Linked DNA regions of Homo sapiens: all the other regions are linked to region 1. The links come from fine-mapping of genetic effects on gene expression. A gene starts in region 1. Each other region holds a variant in brackets. All regions are shown on one strand. Distances are from middle to middle.

Region 1 (4,000 bases):
GAGAGGTACCGGGACAGGGGCGGGAGACCTGAAGCTGCGATCAGAAAACGCTGTGCCTTTTACGCTCCTAAGGAACCTTAGACCGAGAGTTTCAAGTTTCAAAGGCAAGCAGTTGTTGGCCCCTCCTGTAGGATCCTGTGGGCTCTGGACCGGGAAGAGAGCCTGGCAGCGAGGGGTGACCTGGAAAAGCCCAGTCACAGAGGGTGGATGGCTGTTTCCTGCGTAGGAAGCTGTTGGCGACCAGAATGGTTTATACTTTGTTCCTGGGACCAACAGGATCTGCTTGGTTCTCGGCGCATAAGCCCACTACTCTCCCCCTGCGTAATGCACTGGGTGGAATGCAAGAACAATACAGACTTCCTGCGGGCCTCGGTGGCCCACGCCTGTGATCCCAGCACTTTGGGAGGCCCAGGCGGGCGAATCGCTTGAGCTCAGGAGTTCGAGACCAGCCTGGGCAACATAGCGAGACCGCCGTCACTAATATATATATATTTATATATATATATTTCATATATAATATATATTTTATATATAATATATATTTTATATATAATATATATTTTATATATAATATATATTTTATATTTTATATACTATATAAAATATATTATATATAATATATTATATATAATATATTATATATCTTATATATTATATATTATATATAATATATTTTATATATTATATACTATATTTTATATATTTTATATATTATATATAATATATTATATATTATATATTATATATAATATATTATATATATTATATATAATATATAATATATAATATATTATATATATTATATATAATATATTTTATATATAATATATATATTATATATTATATATATATTATATAATATATATATTATATAATATATATATTATATATAATATATAAATAAATATATATTTATATATTTTATATAATATATAAAAATATATATTTATATTTATATATTTATTTATATTATATATAAATATAAAATATATATTTTAATATATATATTTATATATATAAATATATATAAATTAGACGGGGGTGGTAGCACTCACCTGTGGTCTCGGCTACTCTAGAGGCTGAAGCGGGAGGATCGCTGGATCCCAGGAAGTCGAGGCTGCACTGAGCCAAGATGACACCACTGCACCAGCCTAGGCGACAGAGGAAAAAAGAAAAGAAAAAGACATCAGACTTCCCTAAGCCCGTGGGGGACAGAGTGGGTAGAGCCAGTAGCACTTTGGTGGCACCGAGCGCGCAGTTGGTCGGTCGCTGCACCGTTCCTTTCCCAGCGCCGGCTGTTTCTCACTGGCAACGCCACGCCTTTGTCAGCGTTATCGGACGCTCTCTGGCGGCAACCTTCTCACGGCCAAAAATTATCTTTTGCAACTGCACAGACATTTGCTACGGGCAGCTGATCGCTGGGTCCCAGCGCCGCTGGTTTCACAATTTCGCGGGTGCCCCCCACCATCCCCAGCCCGCAGCATAATCGGTGAAGGGAGCCTGCGGTTTCTCCGCCGCGCCTTCGCCCGTTGCGTCCTGCGAAGCCAGTGGAATCGGTGGTCACAAGGTTGGTTTCACCAAGTCGGGCGTTTCTTGGCACTGGCACCGCTCTGCGCTTTTGCTGGCCCAGGCCGGTCTCAGCACCGTTAGGTGCTCTCTAAAGGCGACTGTCTGTCGTGGTTAGGAAAGCTGCTATGGGACGACAGTTTTTTAGAAGTTTCTAGTCTAGCCCAGCTGGCGGTTTCTGGATCGCAGAACCACTGATTGCGCGGAGCTGGATGTACTTCTGTGGCCGCGCATGTTTCTCTGTGGTATCCCTACGGCTGTCGTCGAAATCGCGGTGTTTCTCTGGCCCCACCGCCACGTGGGCAACTTCTTCAGTGGCTGCGGGGTTCTCTCCACTGAGTTGCTGGTTTTGATCCACGCTTTCTCCCAGAGAGCAGACGAGACACTTTTCTGTTTGTGTCAACTGCTAGTCGTGCTGTGCACAGTTTCCTCGTCTCGGTGCGGGGCTTTCTCCATCCGAGGCCCTCTAGTGCCGGCTTCGCGGTCGCAGCACCCGGCGTTTCCGTTGGCTCTTTCGCCAGCGGCGCGAAGCCGGCGGTTTTGCTGTCACAGCACTTGCTGCACGGAGTTTCTCGGTAGCCGAACTTCTCTTTTTTTCTCAGAGTCGACGGTTTCTTGGTGACGGCACCGCTGGTTGCGCCAAAACAAATGTTGTCCTTGACAACCCCGCCGGCTGCATTCCCTTTCAGGCTCCTGGCACCGCCATTTCGGCGAGCCGTGGTCTCTTGTTCACAGCTCTGTGCCTCCATTTCTCGGTGGCGGCAGCCCTCAGGCCGCGGATCTGAGAGATTTAAAGTCGCAGCTGCCCCCGTTGCGCCGAGTCTGGCGTTGCCGGATGGGTGCTGCAGGGCTGGGCGGGGGGAGCCCGACGCTCCTTGGAGCCGGTGACAGGGGAGCTGCAGGGGCACAGTCTCTTCCCAGCGCCGCCGCACGGGTTCCGGCTCGGCCTCCAGAACGCAGTCCTGTGGCGGCGCCGCCGGCGTCTCTGTCGCAGGACCCCACGGTTTCGCGCGTCGTTGGCTTCTTAGTCCTAGCAAGTTTCGATTTCGCGGTGCCTGGGATTTCCACCCTCTGTCCAAGTAGGGGAATAGCCAAAATGTATTTTCTCAGCCCAAGCAAGTCCTGACTTAAGACAAACACCGGTCTAGCCCTGGCTGCGATATCTAGGCCGTAGGAACTCACCCGTTTCCCCATGCGAAGGCGAAGTTACCCTGTGACTCGTTGGTCAGCAGCTCCGGGTTTCCAGTGGCCTCGGATTTCTAATCATAACAACCATGGGGTCAGCCTAGCCTCAAGTTTCTTAGTCCTAGCAAGTTCCGGTTTCCTACTGGTAAGACTTGCTTTAGCTGCGCAGGAAATGTTTAACTCCTGTGGAAATCTGGGTACCAGCGAATGCTTTTTTTTTTTTTTTAAAGGTTTAGCGATGACCAGTTTAGCAGTGTTGGGAGCTCTTATACCAAGTTTGGTTTCGCAATATCGAGTCCTGTCTTAGCTATGCTTGTGTGTTTTTAAAACTCCCGTGGAAGTCAGGAAATGCCGGCGATCGCGATGTCTCAGTTTTACCAAGCTCCCTTTGACAATAGCAAGTCCTGCCCATCGAGACTTTTTCCTCTTGTAGACCAAATCGGGATGTACCAGCTACTACGATTTTTTAGACGTAGCTAAACACGTTTAACCGTGGATATTTTTGTTTTTTTTCTCGTAGGAAATTATGACAGGAGCAACCTGCAGGGGTTTAGATCTGACAGAAATATTCTAATGGTAGGCATTGCATCGCTTAGCCATATTTGTAATTTCTTCTTTGTAGGGTTGGTTCTCTGTAACTTTTGCTTACCTTAAAATTATTTTTGTGTCTTGCTCTGAGGACAATGTTACCGATGTGTTTTTCATTTTTACTTGCATTTCAGACTTTCATTATTTTAAATTATGTATTTTTTTTTTCTTCTAATTTTGAGCGTCTCAGATTCGTGCTTCTTGACTTTCATTCTCTCAGGAGCCGGGGAGCCGAGCTCGGTCTTAGCCTCGCTGGTATCAGGTTCCGGGTTCTGTCTGGAGGCTCCGCTTCCTATGCAGAGCTGGCGGTTTTGTATCAGCACGTTTGCCAGTGGCGCCCACTGGGCGTTTTCTCAGTTGCTGCACCCAACGTGACATTTCCCGTTCGCGGGGTCCTTAGGTTCTCAGTGCTGTCACTTTTTCGCTCCTACAACCGCTAGTATCTCCTAGGAACTTCCTGAACCCCGTTTTGCCGTGCAGAACGGTGATTGCACCGAGCCGCTGTTCGCACTAGTAATTGTGTGGTACCATTAGCCGGCGCTTTTTCTGTCACAACCCATTAAAACGGGTTAAAACATATTAAACCTATCAAACACATTGAACGGATTAAAACACATTAAATGCCGCAACACATTTTTCTGGTACAACACATTGAAACAGA
Region 2 (4,354 bases), 29 kb before region 1:
CCCATAAAGCGATAAACTATGAAAAACTTTCAGAAATCCCCCAAGATCCTGACGAAAAAACAGCCCTTTTTCTCTCTTGTTTAACTGAAGTCATGAGAAAATATACCAACCTAGACCCAACCAGCCCAGAAGGAACCACTATTTTAAACCTTTAGTTCATGTCCCAATCCACCCCGATATTCGGCGTAAGCTACAGAAGCTTGATGATGGCTCTCAAAACCCACAACGAGACCTTCTTAATTTAGCCTTCAAAGTCTTTAACAATCGTGATGAGGAAAATAAAAGGCAAAAACATGCAGAGTTTCAAATGCTTGACTCCGCCATCCGGGGCCCTGCAGGCCCACAGGGCCGCAGCTCCACACAGAAGCCTCCTAGCAATCCACCTCCACCTGGCGCATGTTTCAAGTATGGCAATGAAGGCCACTGGTCTAGACAATGCCCAAACCCAGGTAAGCCCATCAGGCCATGCCCCCTCTGCAGAGGACCCCACTGGAAGTTGGACTGTGAGCGGCCCCCACAAGGACCACTCCCATCCCTTCCTGAGCTGGCCAAAACCTCCTACTCGGATCTCACTGGCCTTGCCACTGAAGACTGATGGGGCCCTGGAATGGACGCCCCGGCAACTACCATTGCTTCATCTAAGACAAGGGTAACCCTGATGGTGGCAGGTAGGCCAGTATTTTTTCTTATTTAATACCGGGCAACCTACTCTGCTTTACCTAATTTTTCAGGACCCACCCAGTCCTCCCAAGTCTCTGTTGTGGGAATTGACGGGCAAGTCTCCAAACCCCGAGCCACCCCTCCACTCTTCTGCTCCCTGCATACCTTTTCCTTCACTCACTCTTTTTTAGTCCTGCCCTCATGCCCAACTCCACTCCTAGGCAGACATCCTTTCAAAAGTCCACACTATTCTCCACTTCCACGTTCCCCATAGTACCCAACACATCAACCCATCCCCTAGCCCCATGCTTACCAAACTATCCTTAAAAAATCCTGTCTTAAGAATTCTCAGCCTGGCCGGGTGCCATGGCTCATGCCTGTAATCCCAGCACTTTGGGAGGCCGAGGCGGGAGGATCACCTGAGGTCGGGAGTTTGAGACCAGCCCGACCAACATGGAGAAACTCCATCTTTACTAAAAATACAAAATTAGCTGGGCGTGGCGGTGCATGCCTGTAATCCAAGCTACTCGGGAGGCTGAGGCAGGAGAATCGCTTGAACCTGGGAGGCGGAGGTTGTGGTGAGCCAAGATGGTGCCATTGCACTATATAGCCTGGGCAGCAGTACGAGTGAAACTCCGTCTCAAAAAAAAAAAAAAAAAAAAAAAAAAAGAATTCTCAGGGAGGTGGATTTGGGAATGAATTCCTGTCCTTCCACTTGGCCAGCCCTGCAATTATTGAAGTCTTTCTTTGCTGCAAAAAAGCTGCTGTTCTCAGTGCATTGGCCTTTGTGGACAATGGGCAAGATGAAACCATTGGGTGATTACACCCACCCTACCCAAAAAAAGACATTCTCTAAAAACTGTCATATCTTTTATCTATTCTTCTAAAGGACCATTTATCTTCTAAAATATCATTTGTGGCTGGTGCAGTGGCTCATGCCAGTAATGCCAGCACCTTGGGAGGCTGAGGAGGATGGATCACGAGTTCAGGAGATCGAGACCATCCTGGCTAACACAGTGAAACCCTGTCTCTATTGAAAATACAAAAAATTAGCTGGGTGTGGTTGCGGGCACCTGTAGTCCCAGCTACTCGGGAGGCTGAGGCAGGAGAATGGCATGAACCC[C/T]GGAGGCAGAGCTTGCAGTGAGCCAAGATCACGCCACTGCATTCCAGCCTGGGCGACAGAGAGAGACTCTGTCTCAAAAAAAAAAATCATTCATATTTCCATAAGTGCCCCTCTGCCCCTCCCCATCTCCTTAATGACATAGGATGTTTCTCAGCAACTTTGCCAGCCAGAGACCTCTGGCTGGCGATGCCCTACCTAGGCCTTGCTGGAGCCCAGGCTAACCACAGGAGATGCCCCATCTACTCGGTTTGCTGGGCTGTGCCTGGCATGTCCTCTGGTGCAGATCCTGTGGCCACCATGACTGTGCACTCAGCCCCTGGCAGGAGGGGTGTGTGAGCTAGTGAGTGTGGGGTTCCACTGGTAGCTCCAAGCACCAGCACAGGAGCAGGCTCTGTGTGGGACTTGTGGCTGGACCAGGCATGTTGCAAGTGACTCCTATGGTGGACTCTGGCATCCAGATGAGGGGAATGTGATGGCACCCAAACAGGGATGCCCGTGACCCCAAAGCCCCAGAGTGGGTGTTACAACATGCTAATAGCTCTTTCAGTCCCGCCCTCTGCAGCCCGAAAGATGTCAGCGTGTTAACAGCTCTGTCAGTCCTGTGGTCTTGCTCTGGCCTACAGCTCCAGGGCTGGTTTGGCCCAACAGCTGCTTCCCGTGTTACAGCCTTCTTTGTACCCGTGTTAGGTGGATCCCGAGTTGTTGTCCTGCATCCAAGAAGAATGAGGTTATGCTGAAAATCAAAAAGTGAGGAGGGCAGAGAGGAGTTTTATTGAGCCACAAAACAGTTCTCAGTGGAGAGGGGATTCGAGGATGGTTTCCCACCAGAAGTTGGGTGGTCTCTCTCCCAATGTGGCAGGGTCTGGGGCTTTTATAGGCTCAGAATGGGGGAGTGCATGCTGATTGGTTTGTGCATATGCAAAAAAGGCTAAAACAAAAGCACCACTCAAAGGTGGGCACAACTGTGTAAAAAAACAATTAGGGAAGGGCAGGTATATGTAAAATAGGTGAAGTGTGGGGATCAATCAGAGGAAAGTGCACTAAGTGAAGTGTGTGGATCAATCAGAGGGAAGTGTGCTAAAGGGGAAGAGAGATTCTTAATCCGGTCCATGGATTTACTGGAGACTTGTAGCTTGGCTTTCATGCTTTAAACTGTCTTTGGTTTGAAGGTGGGGTTTCACCAGGGACCCACCCTTGTCTCCCTAGGATTTGTCTGCCTCCTGCCACTATCATTAAGATGGTATCTAAAGTCTCAAATTTCACCACACTTTTGGATATTCAGTTCTTTCTATGATGCCTCCATGCACATTAGATTAAACATTAAAAAACTTGGCTGGGCGCGGTGGCTAATGCCTGTAATCCCAGCACTTTGGGAGGTGAAACCCTGTCTCTGCTAAAAAATAAAAAAAATTAGCTGGACATGGTGGCGGGCGCCTGTAGTCTGAGCTACTTGGGAGGCTGAGGCAGGAGAATGGTGTGAACCCGGGAGGTGGGAGCTTGCAGTGAGCCACTGCACTCCAGCCTGGGAGACAGAGTGACACTCTGTCTCAAAACAAAAAAATAAAAAAATAAAAAATAAAAAACTTATATTCCTTTTCTCGTGTTAATCTGCCTGTTGTCAGATGAATTCACAGCACTCTCTGCCCAGCCACTGAATCTAAGAAGGTGGAGAAAAAGTATCTCCTCATCTATGCTGGAAAGCATGAATGTGGATTCTTGCTTTTCTAATCTATGACTTGCATAGCTTCTGTGCAACATCCTGACTTCCCAGACAATTCACCTGTGCATACCACTTCTGTGTAAAGACTATCCTTGTTTTTTTTTTTTTTTTTTGAGACAGGGTCTTGCTCTATCGCTCAGGCTGGAGTGCAATGGCGCGATCTTGGCTCACTGCAAACAAGCTCTGCCTCCTGGGTTCACGCCATTCTCCTGCCTCAGACTCCCGAGTAGCTGGGACTATAGGCACCCGCCACCACGCCTGGCTAATTTTTTGTATTTTTAGTAGAGACGGGGTTTCACCGTGTTAGCCAGGATTTGTATTTTTAGTAGAGATGGGGTTTCACCGTGTTAGCCAGGATGGTCTCAATCTCCTGACCTCATGATCCGCCCACCTTGGCCTCCCAAAGTGCTGGGATTACAGGTGTAAGCCACTGCGCCTGACCAGTCTTTTTTTTTTTTTGAATGTTTAAAAATGTTTCCATTTTGTGCCACCTTCCTTTAGTCAACAATAACCCAAGTTTTGTTATTATTAGTTTATTGGTTTAGCCAGATTTATCTTGATGAAATTTTACAAAAATATACTTTGCGGCTGGGCACTGTGACTCATGCCTGTAATTCCAGCACTTTGAGAGGCCGAAGCAGGTGGATCACTTGAGGTCAGGACTTTGAGACCAGCCTGGCCAACAGGGTGAAACCCTGTCTTTACTAAAAATACAAAAATTAGCCAGGTGTGATGGTATGCACCTGTAATCCTGGCTGCTTGGGAGCTGAGGCAGGAGAATAACTTGAACCTGGGAGGTGGATGTTGCAGTGAGCCGAGATCGTACCACTACACTCCAGCCTGGGGAACAG
Region 3 (4,296 bases), 53 kb after region 1:
CTGGAAACTCTAGGTCCGAGATCTCGGTGAAGAATGAAAGGCACAGCGCCGCTCAACCCAGGCTTCAGGCCTGCCCCGCTGGTCCCGTCCCTTCCCTGTGGGATGGAACTCTGTGGGAATCGCTCCTTATTCTGATGGTTCACTCATTCAGATGTCCTTGATATTTGGGGATATTTCTAAAACAGCTGGGGAGAAAAATGGACTGCGAGGCTCCGGTGTTGGACGTGAAATTGGCAGTGAGACATCCGCCTCTAAGCCCAGGGAAAAGCTTAAATTGTGGTTCTCTGTCTCTAGCACCGTGATCTTTGAAATGCGTTATTGATTTTCTTCTTTCTTCTGGGAAATGCAATGCAGGTGAACTTGTAAGTGTTGAATCCTCCCTCTCCTCACTGTTCAATCAGACTGAGGCCTACTTCCTTTCTGATAAGAAATATGGAACTGCCATTGCTCAGTAGGAAAATGTCCTTTCTACAAGCATTCATATTTCAATAAAAATCTGCACTTTGTGAGTTGAGCCCCCTCAAAGAGACCTACAGACCCTGCCATGAGCATCTCCATCCACACTCATCATTTCCCATTTTCACCACTTCTGCTCCTGTGCAAACCAGTACTATCCTTTTCTGGGGGATCCTAGGCAGAAGCGATGGCAGGACAAAGGCAGAGAAGGCACTGCCAGGTAAGGAAATCTATTTTGCCCTTGCAATTCTGTCTCCCAAGGGATTTGCCTCAATATCTCCCTCCCACCATACCCCTTCTTCAGCTAGCCAAAACCTTCCCTGCTATTTGAGGCTCCTCCAATTGCCTCCTGGTCCTGTGGTTGCAAGAATAAAGGAAAAACTACACTGTTCTCACCCACATAGTTACAGACACTATGAAATAGAAGAGCAGTCTGGAGTCATTGCAAAGCAAAATACCTACCATCAGTTCTCTCTTCCTATTTCTTTTTTTTTTCTTTTGAGACAGAGTCTTGCTCTGTCACCAGGCTCGAGTGCAGTGGCGCGATCTCGGCTCAGTGCAACCTCTGCCTCCCGTGTTCAAGGATTCTCCTGCCTCAGCCTCCTGAGTAGCTGGGGCTACAGGAGCGTGCCACAACGCCCAGCTGATTTTTGTATTTTTAGTAGAGACGGGGTTTCACCATGTTGACCAGGATGGTCCCGATCTCTTTACCTCGTGATCTGCTCGCCTTGGCCTCCCAAAGTGCTGGGATTACAGGTGTGAGCCACCGTGCCCGGCCCTCTGTTCCCATTTCTACTCCAGCTTCCCATCTTAGTAAAAAAAATCTGTGAGCAACACCCTGTAGCGGGAAAAGGTAACCTGTCTTGATGGGAGTCCATAGGAGGCTGCAGGCTGCTTCCCTACAGAGACTGATATCAAGGTAGCTGCAGAATTTAGATTCTAATCCTAGTGTGATTGGAGGTGGGGTAGATTCCAGGGAGGTCAGAAAGTGATCAAATACAAAATTGTGCTCCTTTGGAGGAGGTCATAGGAACTTTGAATTATGACAATGGCTAGTAATTGGGTAGAATTGGAGCAGGCTGGTGATGGCAGTTTTGTGTGGGTGGTAGGACCTAGGAATCAAACTTGAGGGCAAATTGTGGAGCACATATGACAAACGATGTAGAGCCTTTCCTATTTCCCTTTCCAGTGTGTTATCCAAAACAATAAATAATAAAGAATTAAGAAAGACTAATATTTTTATCAATCTCATTAAGAAAAATTGCATCAAATCAAGATAACTATAATGATAAATATTGTTAGAATATTATTAACCAAATGAAAGTGACACAAAACAAAAACGGGGTGGATGGTGGGAGAGATCAAATAAAAGCAGTCTCCAACACTCAGGCAATTTGCACAGGTGAATCTTCTGGCCAGTTGTTATGTTGCAGGAAGCTGTGCAACTAATGAATGAGGAGGCAGGAATCCATATTAATACTTTCCTGATACAGAGAAATTCTTGGATTTAACAATCTGCTTCTTTGTCAGATACTGACTTTTGATTATAGGCTCAGAAAAGATGATAACAGTTATAATCACTTAGTCTAGTAGAGTAGGTAAAAGAAAGACTGTGTAGGAGGCTAGACAGAAAGCAAAAGGTAAAAGTGCCCCGGGGTAAGTCATCTAGAGTTGAAAGTGAAGAACTGTGCTTGGTACCAATGGAGGACTCCACCAGGTCAGGTTAACCTACAAAAAATGAACCATTGGCTGTTGATCTCTGGGACTGAAGATTCACCCTATCCCATTCCTGTCTAGCCTCAGCTTTACATTCACTGTGTAGCTCAAAGGTTTTTGTTTGTTTTTTTT[T/GTT]TTTTTTTTGTAAAACACTCTCCACAAATGTTTGATAGATTATAAAACCCTGTCCTAAGACTTTGTCATCCACAGACAATTGTCTTATTTTCAGTCCTCTTCAAAAGGTCGTTTATAATTAGCTATTGGATTTTGATAGGTGTTTTTGAATGCAGGTTTCTAATTACTCTGGAGATTGTGACATTAGAATAAAGAAAAATGTGACATGAGTCTGCTTGGGAACATTTTTTTTTTTTTAAAGTGGAATAGAGGAGTAAACTTTTAGGACTCTCATGGAGAGCTGAAGTATTCGTGAATATCAAACAGGAGTTAATTGCATGGACCGAACAAATAGAAGACTGAAATGATATTGTTGACTTTTTTGCTAAAAAATTGCTGATCCTTAAAAAATTGCTGATCCTTTTTTATGTTTTCCTGAGTCAAGGAAACTTTACTTTTGAGCTATTGACAGCTTTTAACAATTCAGTAAAGTATACTCCAGTGAACAAAATTTGGAGCATATTTCTTTCTCTTTACCTGATTTCTCCAGAATTTGGAAACTATTTGTGAATATTCTTAACTTATGTCAATGTAGTTATTTGCATAAGTGCAATAAGAATGTTTTCTTTTGCAACAGAACACCATTGGAGAAACTGGTTATTTTACCAAGGCTTTGACTGAAATGGTGTGCTTTTCTTTAAGGAGTCAAACTTGAGTTACAGAGCCAATAAAAGCTCCTTGGGAAAACAGGCCCCAAACCTTGTCTACACAGACCCTATACAGGGTTTCTGATTTGTGGTAAGTAAAGAATGTCACTTTTTGACAAGCCCAGGAGCCCCAAGTGATCTTGGGACCTCTAGAGGAGGGGAATTTACCCAACTCATATGTATTCGATGGTACAAAGCCATGGCCGGGCTCGGCTTTTAAAAAGTCTTATCTGAGACTTTTTCTATGGAATAGAGTTCCATCAAAGTCATTTAAAAAGGCTTGTGTGAAAAATAATTGTTCTTGCGGCACTTTATACAAATAATCAGACCAAGTATAATAAAGCGAATAGGTCCTACCATGATTTCTCTTTAGTAAAAATGGGAAACTGGAGAGAGAAAAATTATGTTTCAACAACTATAGTATACATGCTGTTAGATTCTAGTCTTGCCTAATGTTATTTAATTTTTATTATTTTCTACAGTTTGGACTGAATTCCAAAATTTTTTTCTGGCTAAAAGTCTCCAAAATGATGTTTTCAATTATTTTCTTCTTTCTTTTCCTTTCCCTTACCCATTTTTTCCTAATTTTAAATCACTGAAAACTAAACTGTGCTTTCTTAAAGCCCTGCAAAATGAAGCTAGACAACTTAAACTTCAGAAGTAAATAAGAACAACCTATGTACATACATAAACCACTCTCATACCTGCCTGCTGATGTATGGACTTCAAAGTATTATGGCCCATATTGATTTTCCAGAATTATCTTTTTTGGTTTGTTTGTCGCTGTTTTTCTCCTTTCCTACCCATATTTTCTCTTCATAGGATGTGAGACTTCACAACCTGCTAAAAATGAGCCCTCCTAATAATGTGTGTCCTACCCAACTGGGAATAAACCATCGTAGCCATGAGAGATCAGATGGCTCTTCTCCTCCAAATATCATGTTAGAGGAGACTCACTTTCTTGTAAAATGCTTTATCTGAAAGAATTTAAAAAGAAACGGGAGGAAATGTGAAAGGAAAATAAATCCAGGGACCCCCAAATCACTAAGCCAAAAGGAAAAGTTAAGCTGGGAGCTTTAGGGCAAACCTGCCTTCCATTCTATTCCTAAAGAATATAGCTGCTAAGTTGAAAAAGTTACATACCGGCCAGGCAAAGTGGCTCACGCCTATAATCCCAGCACTTTGGGAGGCTGATGTGGGCGGATCACCTGAGGTCGGGAGTTTGAGACCAGCCTGACCAACATAGAGAAACCCCGTCTCTACCAAAAATACAAAATTAGCCGGGTGTGATGGCACATGCCTGTAA

Direction of the effects. Alleles are on the strand shown, and positions count from the first base shown. SD is a standard deviation of normalised expression in the study named. Not every link is listed here.
For the expression in prefrontal cortex of the gene that starts at base 2,489 in region 1, allele T in region 3 goes with a higher level than allele GTT (moderate effect, 0.48 SD a copy in CommonMind).

Evidence for each region. PIP is the estimated chance that this variant, and not a neighbour inherited with it, causes the effect.
Region 2: its variant is the best candidate, but not a certain one, in a credible set for the expression of ANXA2R-AS1 in pancreas (GTEx, PIP 0.86).
Region 3: its variant is the best candidate, but not a certain one, in a credible set for the expression of ANXA2R-AS1 in prefrontal cortex (CommonMind, PIP 0.87).

What each region holds. Positions count from the first base shown.
Region 1 is chr5:43,040,623-43,044,622 of GRCh38, reverse strand. It overlaps ANXA2R-AS1 (ANXA2R antisense RNA 1), which reads right to left and starts at 2,489. Exons shown (of 2, transcript NR_015447.1): 1 at 1,056-2,489; 2 at 1-180. All of the region lies in intron 2 of ANXA2R-OT1 (ANXA2R overlapping transcript 1), which reads left to right. It also overlaps a transcript of ANXA2R not described here. RefSeq lists enhancers at 1-306, 1,026-1,075, 883-1,418, 1,446-1,645, 1,726-1,935 and 3 more.
Region 2 is chr5:43,069,303-43,073,656 of GRCh38, reverse strand. All of the region lies in intron 2 of LOC100506639 (a long non-coding RNA gene), which reads right to left. Among named protein-coding and RNA genes, the nearest start is that of ANXA2R-OT1, 4.0 kb to the right of the region's middle. The variant C/T (reference allele first, on the strand shown) is at 1,784.
Region 3 is chr5:42,987,219-42,991,514 of GRCh38, reverse strand. It overlaps FLJ32255 (a long non-coding RNA gene), which reads left to right. Exons shown (of 2, transcript NR_104643.1): 1 at 1-676. Among named protein-coding and RNA genes, the nearest start is that of FLJ32255, 4.0 kb to the left of the region's middle. The variant T/GTT (reference allele first, on the strand shown) is at 2,305.